3 linked regions of the Homo sapiens genome follow. The protein of the gene in region 1 interacts with the protein of each later gene in a biochemical or structural test. Each region holds a gene or a part of one and is shown on either strand. Other genes may lie near its edges.

The links. The genes of interacting proteins can lie anywhere in the genome.
Region 2: the proteins of DCN (region 1) and COL14A1 form a complex in vitro, tested with the Homo sapiens proteins (one study listed by BioGRID).
Region 3: the proteins of DCN (region 1) and ELN form a complex in vitro, tested with the Homo sapiens proteins (one study listed by BioGRID).

What each region holds. Positions count from the first base shown.
Region 1 is NC_000012.12:91,151,809-91,158,957, forward strand, and holds part of DCN (decorin isoform a preproprotein), read right to left. Parts: intron 6,702-7,149; coding exon 6,488-6,701; intron 5,381-6,487; coding exon 5,267-5,380; intron 1,382-5,266; coding exon 1,288-1,381; intron 1-1,287. UniProt on the Homo sapiens protein: May affect the rate of fibrils formation.
Region 2 is NC_000008.11:120,226,102-120,233,101, reverse strand, and holds part of COL14A1 (collagen alpha-1(XIV) chain isoform 1 precursor), read right to left. Parts: intron 6,476-7,000; coding exon 6,336-6,475; intron 5,883-6,335; coding exon 5,750-5,882; intron 4,393-5,749; coding exon 4,333-4,392; intron 1,636-4,332; coding exon 1,484-1,635; intron 1-1,483. UniProt on the Homo sapiens protein: Plays an adhesive role by integrating collagen bundles. It is probably associated with the surface of interstitial collagen fibrils via COL1.
Region 3 is NC_000007.14:74,066,173-74,070,407, reverse strand, and holds the end of ELN (elastin isoform a precursor), read right to left. Parts: intron 3,677-4,235; coding exon 3,632-3,676; intron 1,752-3,631; coding exon 1,708-1,751; 3' UTR 501-1,707; downstream 1-500. UniProt on the Homo sapiens protein: Major structural protein of tissues such as aorta and nuchal ligament, which must expand rapidly and recover completely.

The DNA.
Region 1 (7,149 bases):
AAATGAAAGCAAACACCACACATGGATGCCTTTCTTACAAGCATTGTGTAGTTAATCAAGTCTATAGGAAAGGACATTTTTTGTTTTTGCACTTACTCTTCCCAGTTCTTGGAGTGCTTTCTCCAACCTCTCTGAGCCTGGACAAAGTCCATTTATTGTTAAGGTCTCGGCTCAAAGTTACTGTCTTTGAGATTCATCTGACAGAACGTGATTGGACATAGTCTCCTATTCCTTATAATATCCTAAGTTCCAACATCAAATTATGGTCAACCATAATATTGGAACATAATATTCCTAATAGTTTATTTTTAAAAACTGTTCACTTATTCAAACATTTATTTGTATATTTAATAAACAAATATTCTTGAAAACTTATGTGCATGATATTATGCTAGGCATTGTGAGGGACAGAGGTCTCATGGATCAAAAACCACTTTTCCCATCAAAGAATATTTTACCTAGTAAAGGAGTTGATTATACACACACACATGCATATATATATATATACACATTCAAAGATATATTTTATATTTATTTATCCACCATGAAATTTATATATAACAACAGGAATGAGTAAATCTGGCATGATAGTGTGCTTCTCTGTAGGGACAGTCAGCAATATGTACAGATCAAAAAGAACATAGTGTTCCTTGAAGACAAGTGAAAACGTTTGCCAGATTGAAGTTATGTTTGAAACCAGGACAAGTACTAGTATCACTTATTTTAAAAAAAATCATTAAGAAGGGCCAGCAAAAACAACAACAACAAAAGCTTTTCTTTTGTTGATCTACATTAAATGCCCAGAGATATTTTATTTTAAACTTTTCAGAGAAGAGGGGGTTAGAGAATCTCATAATTATTAAAATAGTAATTTGTGTGATGCTCAATATTTCTCTGTCTTGGTAGATTTCATTTTAATGGATTTTCAAATTCTAGCAACTGTGTTATAATTTACTTAACTTTCTGTTTGATGCAAATAAGTTAGAACATATTAAATGCACATATTGATTTAATCACACACTTTGTGTATAAAATATAACTAATCTATAAACAGTATAGTATTAATAAAATATGAAGCTGATCTTGGTGGTTTTAGTAAGGGCACTATTTCATTGGCTTCTTCTCAAGAAATAATTGGATATGCTGAAGTTTGAGATTATAGAAACAACAACAGCAGTGAAATGTAGTACACTCAAAAATCAATCATCATGTTTATAATTCTTATCATATAAGCACTAATATACCTAGCCATTGTTCTGATAGAATGTCATGAAAGAATATTATTACTTAGCCAAATTATTCAGTCCTTTCAGGCTAGCTGCATCAACTCTGCTGATTTTGTTGCCATCAAGATGTAATTCCGTAAGGGAAGGAGGAAGACCTGGAATGTGGAATTAAAGATGTTAAATTAGCAGATAAACATTATAAGTACAGAATGTGGACAAACTTAAAGAAGACATATGCCATCAATTTTCTAAAAGACACACAGTTTCAAAGAATCAGCTTTACTTTTATCTTTTTTTTTCATCCCTTTTATAATAATGTGTGCTTTTGGAAGTAGTGGAAGCCCTTGCTATTTTTCTCTTAGGTTGACTTTAACAAAAACCTGGATGATTTCTATCATGTAGTCAATTTTTGTTCTTGGAATAGAAGAACTGAAGTCAACGCTGAGTCTCATTATTCTCTTCCACCTTTGTTAATGGGCTAAAACTGACGTTGATAAAAGATAGTAATTATAAAGTGGGAAAGTCACTATTCGAACCATAATGAAGAGATTACGTATAAATTAAACCCATGTACAAACTTAATTGTCTATTTCATTAATGAGCATCATTAAAAATTAACACTGATATACTGTGCTGGTCTTAGCCTTAATTGACTTTTCCATAAAAGCATCAAATACCTCTGCAAAATGTCTGTGTAGAAACAGCTAACATTTACTTATGCCTATTAAATCCAGAATGTTTATGCAGAAGGAGTGGAGAGGTCTATAATCAAGTGATCTGCCATATGTGGAGCACCTGGGGTAATAATTTTACATCCAAAGTACCCACTAAACCTCTAGATAGTACTTGCATGGCTGTGATTTCCAAAGATCGAGTATTATAAATATAAAAGTTTAAATATTTTATTTTCATTTCCTCCTAGCATCTGAGGCTGTATTATATTTTATACAGCTTTTAAAATAACATATTGTTCCACTTAATAGCAATAGATACAGAGAAAATAGCAAATTGGTTAAGTGTAGAAAGAACATCTGATTGGCAGAAAGTCTTGGCTATTTGTCTATAAAGACACAGAATTGAAAAACCACAGGTTTCATTTTGTCTAAAATTTTTATCACATCACACTGAATTCTGTCAATATTGTCCATTTAATAAAATAGTTTAGTCCATATTTGACTTGAAAATGATTCTTAGTTTCCTATGGTAGCATATTTTGTGTTAGAGCTGCTAGGAAAAGGAACATCTATTTATTGTATGTCTGTTACGCACCGAACATTGACCTTGGCACTTTTCCTACTTCAAATCCTTTAAGCCTCTCAAAACATAAATTATTGGTCACTAATCCCTTTTCACAGTTAAATAAATAAGACTCAAAGTTACAAAGTAATTACAAAGTAATGCAAAATGTATATTTTTTAATGCAGTGCCTCCAGTACACCAATTGCTATCACAACCATCGGCCTTACTTAGTTTCAAAGTGTCTCCCTTTTTGGGATGTCAGTTTCCCAAATGTAAAGTTATAGCTAAGAAGAAGTTTGACTATGGGAGAAAACCTTGCAATAGGTTTGAGATAGACAAATTTGTAAAGTGCATCATTAGCTTCTGCAACTGTGGCATTGAGTTAAAGAACCCATACTCCAGTTATTTTATTTATTTGTTTGTTCATTTATTTTAAATTTTCTTTTTTCTTTTCCTTTTTTAAGATAAAATATATTGAGGTTTACATTGGGCCAAGTACTTGCGTGTACAATACAAGCCTTACTTCTATAGAGTAATCCTCACAATAATCCTAGTAGACAGGGTTATTAATAGCTCCATGTAACATCTAACAAACCTGAGGTTATAGAAATGCAGAATAATTATCCTAAAGTCACAGTACAACTAAATGACTGAGTTAGGTCTCTCACCCAGGTTGATCTAAGTGTATGATTTTTATAGTCTCTACACTACTTTCTACTGCCTTTCCATTTCCATGAGTGATGGGAGAAAATATCACCAGGAGGTTGCTGATATTCAGGCATAGGTATCCCAGCCTAAGCAAGGTGGAATCATGTATTAGATAAGCATAACGATGAATAGAAAGGAGGACTTAATATGCCAACAGAGTGAAATAGTTAAACACACGAGTTCTGACATCAGCACCACACAATTCCATCTCTGCCGCTTCCTAGCTCTAAGAACTTAATTACAATTTTCTTTACCTGTTTAAGCCTCATTTTCCACTTTTATGAAACAGGAATTATAACCCTACTATATAGGGACGTTGTAAGAATCATATAGAAGACTCCATGACAAGCATTTGGCATGATACCCGGAACTAAATACATGCTTAATAAATTGTAGTTACTTAACTTTTCTATTAAGCGGTAGTAAATAAAAGCAAGCTATAAATGATGAGGAAAGAATACCTGGGATAGATAGAAGACATAGCAAAGTAAAGGAAAAGAGATCATGAAATGATAAAAGGTATCAGTGAAGGATATTTTGGAGCATGCATTAAGAGGGACAGCAAAGTCTGAGATTGTGCTAAATGTAAGTCATCTGGCTGCATGAAATAAATTTCAGCAAGAATTTTAATAAGATCTATCTATCTATCTATCTATCTATCTATCTATCTATATCAATCCCCAATTTATATCTATCTGAGATATAAATATTTCATTCCTGCACTGGGGATAGCAAAAGATTACTTGTTACATGCAAAAAATTGGAGACTCAACATGAAAGTGCTTTATGAATTATAAATCAGTCTTTATCATCTATGTATCTATCTATGCCAGTAGTTGCTACTAAGGAAGTCAAAAGCATGCTCTGTATTCAAAAGACTAGGAGGAGGGCAAGGGGTGGTAAGAAAGCATCCTATGGAATATGTACTCTCAGGAGTTGAAATTTCTGTAAAAGAACAATAAAGGACAACTGGTGTTTTCTGTGGCCAAATGTCTACATTTTGTACGCACTCAAGAACAAGGCATCTAAGTTGAGAAAGGGACAGACTGAGGGGAAAACTAGATAATATAGAGGGCTTCTGTGAGACTGAAAAACCCAGAGTAGGGACGATGTGCAAGTTAGAGGAATTTATTATTGGTGGTTTGATGCCTTTTGTAATTCACAAAGACTGGCTTTTGTGCCTCTCCTGGGAATCCCTTGGAACAATGAACTTACCCTTGTGGCTATGTGGTCATTGCTGTGTATTTGTCTGGCTTGGTTTTAGAGAGTAAGCTCCTAAAGGCATGTAGCATATCCTGTTCCCTGCCCTGTCTTAAGTGTTTGGTACATCGCCTACACATACTGATTGTTCAGAACATTTTTAATGCATAATAGAGAGTTATATTAATTCCCTACTTATCTATATGCTAAATATTTCTCTAATTATTTATTTAACTTTAAAACAACTCAATGAAGTGGATAGCAGTATTATTTCCACTTGACAGATAAAGAGATAGAGGACAAATGAATAACTTTTTCAAAGTCTTTGAACCACTTTATGGTAATTTGGGCTCAAGCAAACTGACTCCAAAATCTACACTCTTCACAACACACAACTACCACTATCATTCAGATATTAATAACTGGAGTGTCTTAAAAAGGAAAAAAAAATTCCCTAAGCTATTGCAGACTCAAGATAAAAATTGGATCAATTTCAGAGGTACTCCCATATATCTTTTTTTTTTTTTTTACAAACACCAAGGCATGCTATTTTTTAAATAAATGTACTTTTTCTTTGTGATTTTACAATATTATAAAATCACTGTGCATTAAGTTGTGTCTTAAACTAGACATTAACAGGAGTCTACCCATCTCTACAGTGAGCCTGGATGGCCCCGTGGTCATCCAGACTGAATCACTGGATATAACACTAGCAGTAATAGAGAATTTGCTGGAAATATAAACACTGGATGAAACACTAGCAGTAATAGAGAATTTGCTGGAAATAAGGTTGGCCTCTTAGGTGACAATTCCAGTTTCCACAAGATTTTTTTTTTTTAATTAAAGCCTTTGAATTTAAATTTTTCAAAATGTTTTGGAGAATCTTCTATCACCTTGAGGAATGCTGGTGATATTGGTATCAGCAATGCGGATGTAGGAGAGCTTCTTCATTCCCTGGAAAGCCCCATTTTCAATTCCTGAGCTCTTCAGCGGATTGGTGCCCAGTTCTACAAATGTAATAAGTGCAAGGCTTTTAGAGGAAATTTTAGGATATTACTAGTCACTGTAGTATCTGTTTCAGCAAGCAACCTATAAAGAAATAGGGATTAATATCAACTTGACTAAAAAACAAAAGTGAAGTTAAAGAGCATGCTCCTCAGGAGAATAGCAAAATAGGATAAAAATTTCCCTTATTAAAACAAAAGCCAAACAGACAATGACTTATGAATAATAATGACTTATGAAAAAGACTATTAGTGAAAGCAATACCAATAAAATTATTTAAGATGCATACACAGGTTTGCCCAGAAATCAACTAAAGCAAGTTTACAATTCCCATCTTACGTTATTTATTATTTTCCTAAGGTATTTTAAAATTTTGTTAAAGAATTTCAATCTAGCATTTTATAAGCCAATAATAAAATTACAATTTTTACTATATGTTTAGAGAAATTTTTTTTTTTTTGAGACGTAGTCTCACTCTGTCACCCAGGCTGGAGTGCAGTGGGGCCATCTCGGCTCACTGCAAGCTCCGCCTCCCGGGTTCACGCCATTCTCCTGCCTCAGCCTCCCGAGTAGCTGGTACTACAGGCCCCCACCACCACGCCCGGCTAATTTTTTGTATTTTTAGTAGAGATGGGGTTTCACCATGTTAGCCAGGATGGTCTCGATCTCCTGACCTCGTGATCCGCCTGCTTCGGCCTCCCAAAGTGCTGGGATTACAGGCATGAGCCACCGCGCCCAGCCATAACATATTTTTAAAGCAAATGATTTATGAGTGTTTAGAATACAACAGGTCCCCAAAACGGAAAGGTATCTCAAAATATCTGTAGTTAAGCACTATTTAAACTCATCTTTGCATATTGTGTGTGTGGTAGGGTAACTTCAGCCCTAGGGTTTTCTCCATATTCTCAGATACTCAAGGACATACATAAAAACATCACTGTAAGGTCCAGATTCAAAATCCCAATTTCTCTTGGCCCTGTTCTTATAAATCACATAGGCTCCAGGCATGTAGCTTGTAGCTAATTTACCTTCCTGCACTTAAAACCCAGTTGAAATCTCTTAAGATAAAAACTTGAGTTTTGGTCTTAAAGTTATAAAAATGTCTGTACCTATGACAATCATCTGGTTCAGTCCATTGAAAGTAACTTTTCGCACTTTGGTGATCTCATTCTCATGGGCACGCAGCTCCTGAAGAGTTTTGGGCATTTTTTCTGGCAATTCCTTCAGCTGATTCTTGGACAGATAAAGTCGTTCCAACTTCACCAAAGGTGTAAATGCTCCAGGACTAACTTTGCTAATTTTATTGTTGACAAGAATCAATGCCTGTAGATAGTGAAGAAAAACATCTCTTTAAATCCAAAACCTTCCACATACATGTAAAACAAGGGCATGTTTGTTCATTCCATTCATAGGGATAGCAGAGAAATCTAAAAAATTGCAAGAAATCAGAAAAAAATTAAGTAAGTATTATTTCTTTACTTAAGAAGTGTATAGGCCAGGTGCGGTGGCTCATGCCTGTAATCCCAGCACTTTGGGAGGCTGAGGTGGGAGGATCACTTGAGGCCAGGAGTTCGAGACAAGCCTGGCCAGCATGGCGAAATCCCGTCTGTATCAAAAATACAAAAATTAGCTGGGCGTGGTGGTGGGTGCCGGTAGTCCCGGCTACTTGGGAGGCTGAGACAGGAGGATCACTTGAACCTGGGAGGCAGAGGTTGCAGTGAGCTGAGATCACACGACTGCACTCCAGCCTTGGTGACTGGGAAAGATTGTC
Region 2 (7,000 bases), on another chromosome or scaffold:
AAGTGGGAGAAGGATATTAACAGTCACTTTCTCAAAAGAATACATTTATGCAGCCAACAAACATATGAAAAAAAGCTCATCATCGTTGGTCATTAGAAAAACTCAAATCAAAACCACAATGAGATATCATCTCATGCCAGTTAGAACGGCAATCATTAAAAAGTCAGGAAACAACAGATGCTAGAGAGGATGTGGAGAAATAGGAACACTTTTACACTGTTGGTGAGACTGTAAATTAGCTCAACCATTGTGGAAGGCAGTGTAGCGATTCCTCAAAGACCTAGAACTAGAAATACCATTTGACCCAGCAATCCCATTACTGGGTGTATACCCAAAGCATTATAAATCATTCTACTATAACAATACATCCACACATGTTTATTGCAGCACTACTCACAATAGCAAAGACTTGGAACCAGCCCAAATGCCCATCAATGATAGACTGGATAAAGAAAATGTGGCACATATACACCATGGAATACTATGCAGCCATAAAAAAGGATGAGTTCATGTCCTTTGCAGGGACATGGATGAAGCTGGAAACCATCATTCTCTGCAAACTAACACAGGAACAGGCAACCAAACACTACATGTTCTCACTCATAAGTGGGAGTTGAACAATGAGAACACATGGACACAGGGAGGGGAACATTACACACTGGGTCCTGTTGGGGTTGTGGGGCAAGGGGAGGGATAGCATTAGGAGAAATACTTAATGTAGATGACGGGTTGATGGGTGCAGCAAACTACCATGGTCCATGTATACCTATGTAAAAAACCTGCATGTTCTGCACATGTATCCCAGAACTTAAGTATATTAAAAAAAGATAAATAAATTAGAAAAAAAGAGTGTATCATTTAGAAAAAGGAAAGATAGATAAAACAACTCAAAGAAAACTCAATGTATAAAAATCTAAATCCCTGAGGGGATACATCCATGTTACGAATAATTAGAAATGACTATAAATCTACTCAATACGAGTTGATGTCAATGAAAAATATAACTATTGGTTAACGGATGGTATTTTATTAAGAATATTTTCACTATACCATATAGAAGACCTTTTCTGTGTCCTTTGCTTAAAAGTTTTTTTATCAGATTTCCAAGGGCAGAAGAAATTATTTTCTATATTAAACTTTTATACATGTCTATACATACATATATACAGACACAAGTGCATATGGCCTTTTATGACCCAACTTTGGTGCTCGAACAGGTGCAAGGCAGCAGAAGAGAAGCAATATTTGAAACAATGTTCAGAGGTTATTAACTTGGAGCAAGTTGTACATGGAGCAAGTTTTGGATTTATAAAGGTCACTAAGAAGCCAGTAGTGGAGTCAGATTAACAGAGAACATTAGTTTCTGGAGATGGCAGAGTCACTGAGAAAAGAGCAGTAAAGTTTGCATTGATCTCCGAAGACAGTCTTATTAGCTGTGTTAGTAACATCTGCAGAGTTTCTAGTCAGTTGAATTTATACAGACCGTTCCTATGACTTCTTCCTCAGGGTCCCCTTGAGCTGTCATGTAGGTCACCCTAAACTGCTGCACATCGCTGTCAGAAATGTCCCATTTTACCCGCAGGCTAGAAGTAGTTTCATCACCTACAACTAGGTTTCTGATTCCCGTCTGGAAAACTGGAATAAACACAACCAAGGATTAAAAAACTTTTAACATATCATATTCCAAAATGAGCCACAGAGAATACCTGTGGGGTGACAGCAAGCATCATTTAATGTATCCCTGTAATATAGTTGTATATGAGGCAAGAAGGGCTCAGCTATGGTGCTTAATGGGGAGGCATGATACCTACTAGCAGCAAATAAAAGTGGAATTAAGAGATGCTTACAAGATGAGACCATGGAGCCCTCAAAACTGTCAGTTCTGTATGTGCACTAGTAAAGAGAACTGGGAAGAAGCCCTGAGACTAGAAAAACAGCCCATGGAACCCAAAGGAAAGAGTGGTCATGAGAACCTCACACTAGTGCTCTGTGGACAAGTGGGCACAGTGGGCCAGACTTTGTCCACCTCTGTGTGCAATCCAGCATCCAACACACATCCCAATCACCTGCCCTCACCTCCATTTCTCTTTTAACACCTGTCATTCAAAGCACAAATCTGCGCTCAGGCTGCCTTTATCCATTCAGCCCACACAGACACGATCTTTTCTCTGGTACTTGTCCAAACTCCTTTACCTGTGTTTCCTGGCACATTCGTGCTCATCTCTCAAGGTGCCTGCTCCCTTATTTGTTGCATTTTTTTCTTTTCTCTTCTACCCTAACTTCATTTCCCTTTGTCCATCTTTTCTCATTCTCCTTTCTCTTCATTCATCTATTAATTCATTTAGAAAATATTCATTGAACTTTTTCTGTGTGTCAGACTGTTAGGGCTTTGGTTTTTATATAGTTATTAACTCAACAAAAATAGTAAAAGTGTCACAGAGGAGGAGGGGGTTGACATTTACCTGGCAACATTGCAGGGGGGCTACCAGGCAATGGGAATGGGAGGGAACTTCTCACATTTAGGGAAAGGAGTTCGGGATTGCAAGAGAAAAACGGGGGAAGCATAGGAAATATGGTTGAGGCCAGGAAGGGAAGCAGGACCCAACTAGGAAGGATCTTGGATGCTGTGAAAAAGACTTTAAAGCACAAAGAAGGCTTGATAAGGATTAAATGAAGAATGAACAAATCAACAAATGGGTAATGGAGAGCCATTGAAGTGTCTTAGAGAAGTAAATAAATGATATTATCAAACTTGTGTTTTACCAAGTTGACTCTGACAGCTAGTTGGGAGGTGTATTACAGTGAAGGGGAAAGCTAAGCTGAGAGAGGAAACAACTAATGTAGGAAAAACAATAGACCAGCCAAGTGTCAGTTACCCACAGAAATGCAAGGAAAACATGGTAAGAATAATTCTCAACAAGGCCAGGCATGGTGGCTCATGCCTGCAATTCCAGAACTTTGGGAGGCCAAGGATGAAGGAACATTTGAGCTCAGGAGTTAAAGACCAGCCTGGGTAATATGGAAAGACCTCATCTCTACTAAAATTCAAAACGATTAGCCAGGCACGATGACACATGTCTGTAGTCCCAGCTACGTGGGGGGCTGAGGCTGGAGGATCACATGAGCCCAGGAAGTCAAGGCTGTGGTGAGCCTTGATCGTGGTGCTGCACTCCAGCCTGGATGACAGAATGAAACCCTGTCTCTAAAAGAAAAAAAGAGAAAAGAAGGGGAATTCTCAACAGAGAGCAACAGAAGTGCAAATCAAAACCACAATGAGATACCATCTCACACCAGTTAGAATGGCAATCATTAAAAAGTCAGGAAACAACAGGTGCTGGAGAGGATGTGGAGAAATAGGAACACTTTTACACTGTTGGTGGGACTGTAAACTAGTTCAATCATTGTGGAAGACAGTGTGGCGATTCCTCAGGGATCTAGAACTAGCAATACCATTTGACCCAGCCATCCCATTACTGGGTATATACCCAAAGGACTATAAATCATGCTGCTATAAAGACACGTGCACATGTATGTTTATTGTGGCACTATTCACGATAGCAAAGACTTGGAACCAACCCAAATGTCCAACAATGATAGACTGGATTAAGAAAATGTGGCATATATACACCATGGAATACTATGCAGCCATAAAACATGATGAGTTCATGTCCTTTGTAGGGACATGGATGAAATTGGAAATCATCATTCTCAGTAAACTATCGCAAGGACAAAAAACCAAACACCACATATTCTCACTCATAGGTGGGAACTGAACGATGAGAACACATGGACACAGGAAGGGGAACATCAGACTCTGGGGACTGTTGTGGGGTGGGGGGAGGGGGGAGGGATAGCATTGGGAGATATACCTAATGCTAGATGACGAGTTAGTGTGTGCAGTGCACCAGCATGGCACATGTATACATATGTAACTAACCTGCAAATTGTGCACATGTACCCTAAAACTTAAAGTATAATAATAATAAATAAAATAAAATAAAATAAAATAAAAAGAAAAAAAAAAGAGGAGGGCAAAGACCCCTGGGGAGGCAGCTACGTTAACATCCCAGGTAAGGTGCATGAGCATCCAGACAAAGATGAAAGAGGTAGAGTGATGTATCAGTGAGATCAGTTGACTAGGAGATCCATGGGCATTTAGTGGCAAGGAAGGTGTTGAGAGGCTCTGAGAGGCGTGAAATTTGAACCAGTGTGCCAGAAAAGGAAGGGAGGGTCATCTCTTTTCCTAGTTAATAATAAATAAAACCAGGATAATATAACATCTGTTTAAAGAAAATTTTTAAAGTGGTTAAGCAGGCTACTATTTGACCTTACCTGAAGTCACAGATGTGGTAGGCACTATGGTTGTAGCTGGTTCTGTCCAAAAACTGTCAACTAAAAGCAATATATTACTTTAAAATGCTGCAAAAACAACTGTCCATTTTTCTATAGCATGTTGTAGCTTTCAAAGAACATTTCACCTATATTATCTCACTTGCCTCCCACAACAAACATGACAATGGTTAGAAGACGAAAGAAATGAATTGTAAGTAAGGCAGACATACCTGTGCCACAGATAAGAAAACTGAAACCCAAAGAATGTTAAAGTTTCTCATCACAGATACCAGGCTTCATATAAACATTTGAACTACATCTACAGAATTGTGAAACCACCCAATTACTTTGAAATAGGGGCACAGCCATGGTAATTAAGGGAAATTAGACAGTGCTGTAGACCAAGTTGTGAAAAGGCTGCCAAACAGGACCACCACGGAATGCAATGTGCTTGGACAAGCAATGCATCTTCTATTTCTTACAGCCACCGTGGGCATATAGCAGAATGAAGTACAGATGTGGTGCTCTTCCCAGATCCTCTTTTTAGGGTCAACACACCAATCCACTTGGTGCTGGAACACTGCCTGCCAACAGTTCACAGCTCTGGGAACTGTCTCGCCTGAGTTCATGGCCTCTGTCAGGGAATGGCTCACCTCCAGCGACTGGGGATGCAAGGGTATGAAGTCTCAGCCCCTTTGTCTCAATTTGGGACAACTCAGAAGGGTCATCCCAGCACTAGACCTCCATTATAATAAGATTAGCTGAGGGTTCAGTTTCAACTTCTTCCCATGCCCCCTCCTGCTGTCCTCAGTTTTTTACGTAAGCATCTCCCAACTGCACTCTTCAATAAACTTTCTGGCTGCAATTTCTGTCTAGAATCTGGTTCCAGGGAACCCAGGCAAAGGCAATTTAATATGTGGTCAATACCTCATATTTTAAAAATGAAGAGATGAATGAATCAGCAAGTAAATTTTGTACAAGACTCTTGGAACCAATATCAACTTGGAAAATTCCAGAAACTCTTTGACATGTTGGCCCTAGGTTTATTTGTTTGGCAATCTATTCATTTGTAAATTATTTTATCCATTCTTGCATACATCCATTCATCTATCCATCCATCCATTTGATGGGTGTTTACTCTACAGTTAACATGTGCCAAGTACTGTGCTAAGTCCTGGAAAATATAATGGTGAGCAACACAGATATGGTCCCTGCCTTCATGTTGATCATTATCTAGGAAGCTAAGATGCTTCACATACTGGTTTCATTGAAAGTGAAGATATATGAAGAATTCTGGGGGACAAAGAGAAATTGAAGCTTACATAGCCAAAGATAAAGCAGATGGGGAAGGAAATTGATGGGGTAAAGAGGGATTGTGGGAGCAGCTAAAACGCACTGTGGCCAGACCAAGACTTACGTGTGGTCCCGACAGCAGTCACCACCTCACTCTCGCTTCCATCATCAAGTACGGCCAATAGTGAAACTTCATACTCCGTACCGGGCTCCAGGCCTTCAATAACATGTGAGTCCTGCTCTTCTTTCAGGACAACCTGAAATATATTTTGGTGCTTAGTAACTATGCTTATTTGAAAAAAAAGTAAAGAAAAAGTGTTATTCTGAGCATAAGCAAGAAACAACCAATCATAAAGAACTCCAAGGCTGTCGAAGTCCATTTTAAGGTCAAGCCAGAGACTTTATTCCTTTCAATCCCCTCAGCAAATAAATTATTAATATTGCAAAAGTGACATTTTAAAGTTGTATTAAATGTCATTTATTAAAGTCAAAGAATCTGAAAATATATAAATATATAACTAAAGCTCTGGCAACAATACATCATAATATTAGGAAAATCTTATGATTTGACATTTCTAAAACTCCAAGCCATGTAAAATACTAATTACTTCTGGGATTCCTAATATATTTTAAAGTGAAGACCAACTCCAGCAGCAGTAGGTATTCACTAATGCTCCAGATTAATTTTCAGTCTGTTTCAGAAAACTCACCTCCTCAGTCTTCCCCCCATAGACTGGAATCCACATCAATTTGTGTAGCCCTTCATCAGCTGAGAGGGGATGCCAGGTCACCCTAAAACTGTCTGTCGTCACCTCATCAATTTCTAAGTATTGCTGGGCTGGAACTTCCTCTGTAAACCGAGGAAGGAGGTTTTGTTAGGGAAATGAGAAGGCAAGAAAGCCAAAACCCAAGTATCTCCCAGGGGTGTAGAAGACTCTTTGAGGAATCTTTTGCTTTAGGAAAGCACAGGAAAGAAGGAAAACTGGGGCCCATCAGTCCAGGGTGGCCTTCCATTTCTGTTTCCAGCATTCACCAATATCATAAATTAGGGAAACCATGGAAATAACAGATCTTAAAACTTTTCCAGTAATTTCCAAAACTCTTAGCTTTTCTATTTGGCTGTTTTCATTAACTATAAAAAACAAGAGTGCCATATTCATTTTTTTTTTAAATATTATTTTCCAAGTATCTTGAGGAAATTAACAAAATAGGGGCCTAAGAAAGCTTCCCTTTTAGTTCTATTTGCTTTAGTGGCTAAATTGCTCCCTGGTATTAATCCTGGAAAAGAAACTTCAATCTTTTAACTTGTACATATGGTGGTCATCAGAAATGAAATAGAATTTATCAGGCCTTCCACTGTTTCAGAGCTTACACA
Region 3 (4,235 bases), on another chromosome or scaffold:
GACTGTCTTCTGCATTTTCTTAGGTCAGCCATCTTTCCTCTCTGTCTCTTTCTGTTTCTCTCTCTCTCTCTCTCGAGACAGGATCTTGCTGTCTCACCCAGGCTGGAGTGCAGTGGCGCAATCATAGCTCACTGCAGCCTCGAAATCCTGGGCTCAAGCGATCCTCCCACCTCAGCCTCCTGAGTAGCTGGGACCACAGGCATGCACCACCACCAATCTTGGGTAATTTTTTTTTTTTTTGTAGCTATATGGTACAAAGTGATTCTCCACTGGACAGCTATGTTGTCCAGGTGGGTCTCAAACTCCTGGCCTCATTGTTAAAGTACAAGCCAAACTTGGAGAAAGATCGATGCCCCAGAAGCCAGCAGCAGGGGCTTTTGGTTGGGCAACCTCTCAAATACACTGTGGGTGGTGGAGGTTCCCTGAAGCAGAGCCCTTATCCCCATCCAGGCCAGCGAGTTGAAGGCAGATTAAATCATACGAAGGAAGCTAAGACACAGTTTCCTTTAAAGGTTTTTCATTTATTAGTCATTTCTGAAGCAGTTAATTCTCTTTTCTTATTAAAAAAAAAGGTGTGTTTCATCCAGAGTTATATTAGAGTGATTAAAATGTTTTTTCTACTGGGGATACAGCTCCCCGGATCAGAAAAAAAAATTATCTTTTTTTTTCAATGAACCACAACAATAAAACCAAAAGAGAATATCAACAATCAAAAATAATCCCCAAATATCCAGGACAAAAAATAAAATATTTATTGATCTATCACAGCGAGACACAAAAAGATGGGCGGGGCAGGAATGGGAACTGCTCTGAAGTTCAGTGGACCGAGGGAGGGATGGGGGGTATACAGTACTGCATGTGGGGACACCCCGGGTGGGGAGGAGATGCCTGGCACCCCAGTCTGCACAGCCCCGCACGCCCTGGGGGAGTGTAGGATGGGGGTGGAGGCAGGGCACAGGCGGCCATGACAGGTCAACCAGGTTGATGGTGGGTGCACCCAGCCAGCTAGTGGTGCCGGGCGGTCAACTGGGGACATGGATGGACGGACCGATGGATGAATGGACGGATGGGCGGATGGATTCTACAAGGGCAAGGTGGCTATTCCCAGTGTGGGGTGGTTTTCCAACCCAAAAGCGCCCCAGATGTGGGGAACAGCGATCGGTGGGGAGGAGACGGCCAAGTGGACCCAGGAGAGGAGGGATGCTAGAGCGAATCCAGCTTTGAGGCTTCAGGTGCTTGGGTACCAACTGGATGGCAGCCAACGGTGGGTCCTGGTGGGCAGGGGGAGCTGGGACTGCCCAGGAAGTGTCTGCACCATCTTTAGAGGAGCCCCAGGTAGGGGGTTCCCCGAGGGGCCACCCTTCCCTCCTCCCTCCCCCCAGGAAGATAAGAGCACCAGCGTGTAGCACCAAGTTCCCCTGGAGATGGAGGCTGTGTGGAGGGGGAGCTCCTAGGTGGGAAGGGATGGGGTGGGGGGCCAGGACCACATGGCCCTTGCCTCTGAAGTAGGGGGCCTCCTGGTCGGGGCACTTGGCCGCTCCCCTCTTGTTTCCTTGCCCTGTGGATCTGCAAGGCCGCCCGGCCTGCCCGTTCCCTCCTGGGGTGGGGAGTCGGAGGGGCATGGGATGGGGTTACAAAGGGTTTACATTCTCCACCAAGCAGTAGCACCAACGTTGATGAGGTCGTGAGTCAGGGGTCCTAGGAAGCTCATTTTCTCTTCCGGCCACAAGCTTTCCCCAGGCAGGCCCCACCTGGACGGGAGGAGGTGCACATCACTGTGAGTCCGGCCCCTCTCAGTTTCGGCTCTAATCCCCGCCTGCTCTGACCCACTCGAATGGAGGCTCCAAGAAGCCAAGAGAAGCCAAGTCATGGCCCCAGGCCAAACTCAGACCTGATCCATGCCATCAACTTCCACTGGACAGATGGGGCGGGAGAAGCCCCCAAGATATTACTTGGATGAAACCAACGCTCGCAGAAAAGGGGGCAGGTCATGGGGCCTGGCTGGGGAAGGACGGGGCCTGGCACTGGCTCCTGGCTCCACTGCTCCAAGAAGCCTTTCGGGGAAAGGCTAAGAGCAGCTCCATCAAGGAACATGGGATGAAGGGAGAGTCAGTGTCTGCAGGAGACGGCCCTCTCAGGGAGTGGGGTGGACCCATACATCTGAGAGGGCATCAGATAAGTAAATCAAGGCCCAGTAGAGGGAGAGAGGGTCTTATCCACATAGTGTCTGAGCTGGGACTCAAACCCAGGATTCCTACCCCCTCCTGGGAATAGTCTGATGGGTGAACCCTGTTTCAAGGCATCAGTCTGTATTAGGTAAGGCACCATTGTCTAGTAGCGCGGCCCGGAGCAGTTCCTAACCCTGCTTGAGCCAGATATGGCTCCTTACCGCCACCTGGTGGCAGTGAGCAGAGAGTGGGGCAGGAACAGACATCTGCCTCTGAAGGTTTTTTTTTTTTTTTTTTTTTTTTTTTGAGACGCAATCGTCTTGCCCTGTCATCACCCAGGCTAGAGGGCAGTGGTGTAGTCTCAGCTCACTGCAACCTCCGCCTCCTGGGTTCAAGCAATTCTCCTGTCTCAGCCTCCAGAGTAGCTGGGATTACAGGCGTGCACCACCACACCTGGCTAATTTTTTTTTTTTTTTTGAGACGGAGTCTTGCTGTGCCGCCCAGGCTGGAGTGCAGTGGCGCAATCTCGGCTCACTGCAAGCTCCGCCTCCCGGGTTCACACCATGCTCCGCCTCCCGGGTTCACACCATTCTCCTGCGTGAGCCTCCCGAGTAGCTGAGACTACAGGTGCCCGCCACCATGCCCGGCTAATTTTTTGTATTTTTAGTAGAGACGGCCGGACGTGGTGGCTCACTCCTGTAATCCCAGCACTTTGGGAGGCCGAGGCGGGCGGATCACGAGGTCAGGAGTTCGAGACCAGCCTGGCCAATATGGTGAAACCCCGTCTCTACTAAAAATACAAAAATTAGCTGGGCGTAGTGGTGTATGCCTGTAGTCCCAGCTACTTGGGAGGCTGAGGCAGAAGAATCGCTTGAACCTAGGAGGCAGAGGTTGCAGTGAGCCAAGATCGTGCCACTGCACTCCAGCCTGGGCAACAGAGCAAGACTCCATCTCAAAAAAAAAAAGAAGACTATAGTATTTTTAGTAGAGACGGGGTTTCACCGTTTCAGCCAGGATGGTTTCCATCTCCTGACCTCGTGATCCACCTGCCTTGGCCTCCCAAAGGGCTGGGATTACAGGCGTGAGCCACCACACCCGGCTAATTTTAGTATTTTTAATAGAGACAGGGTTTCGCCATGTTGGCCAGGCTGGTCTTGAACTCCTGACCTCAGGTGATCTGCCCTCCTCAGCCTCCCAAAGTGCTGGGATTACAGGTGTGAGCCATCACACCTGGCCATGAACTGTGTTTTTAAAAAGCAAATGTTCCCTGTGTTTATAAGAGGTCAGCAAGAAGGAGGGGAGGCTCTACATTCAGCTCGGGGTCCAGCCTCGTGTGACCTGAGGCTGTGGGGTCCACCCCTGGGTGCTGGCTCAGCCCTTCTGAGCAGGAGATGGCACAGGAGAGGAGGGAGGAGGTGGCTGCAGCTCCAGGGCAGGGCCCAGGGGCAGGGAGCCTGGCATACCTGGGAAAATGGGAGACAATCCGAAGCCAGGTCTTGCTGCCACTCCTGCAGGAGAGATTTCAGGTTGGTGGGTTGGTAGGGGTGGAAACTGACTCCAGCCTCATCACTTTCTGCCTGCACTGGCTCACCCAAGACCTCTGTCTGGGATCACCTCCTCTCCATCCCCCCCACTATATAATTTTTTATATTTTATTTTATTATTATTTTTTTGAGATGGGGTCTTGCTCTGTCACCCAGGCTGGAGTGCAGTGGTGCGATCTTGGCTCACTGCAACCTCCGCTTCCCAGGCTCCAGTGATTCTCCCGCCTCAGCCTCCCGAGTAGCTGGGATTACAGGCGTCCACCACGTTTGGCTAATTTTTGCATTTTTTTTAGTAGAGACAGGGTTTCACCATGTTGACCAGACTGGTCTCGAACTCCTGACCTCAAGTGATCCACCCACCTAGGCCTCCCAAAGTGCTGGGATTACAGGCGTGAGCCACCACGCCCAGCCAATCCCCCTCACTACAGCCAGAGTGGCTTTCTCAACACAACATGCCGCCACCTAGCAACCAGGTGTGGCACCTCATGGCCTCAACCCTGAGCTCAGCCTGGCACTGTCCCCA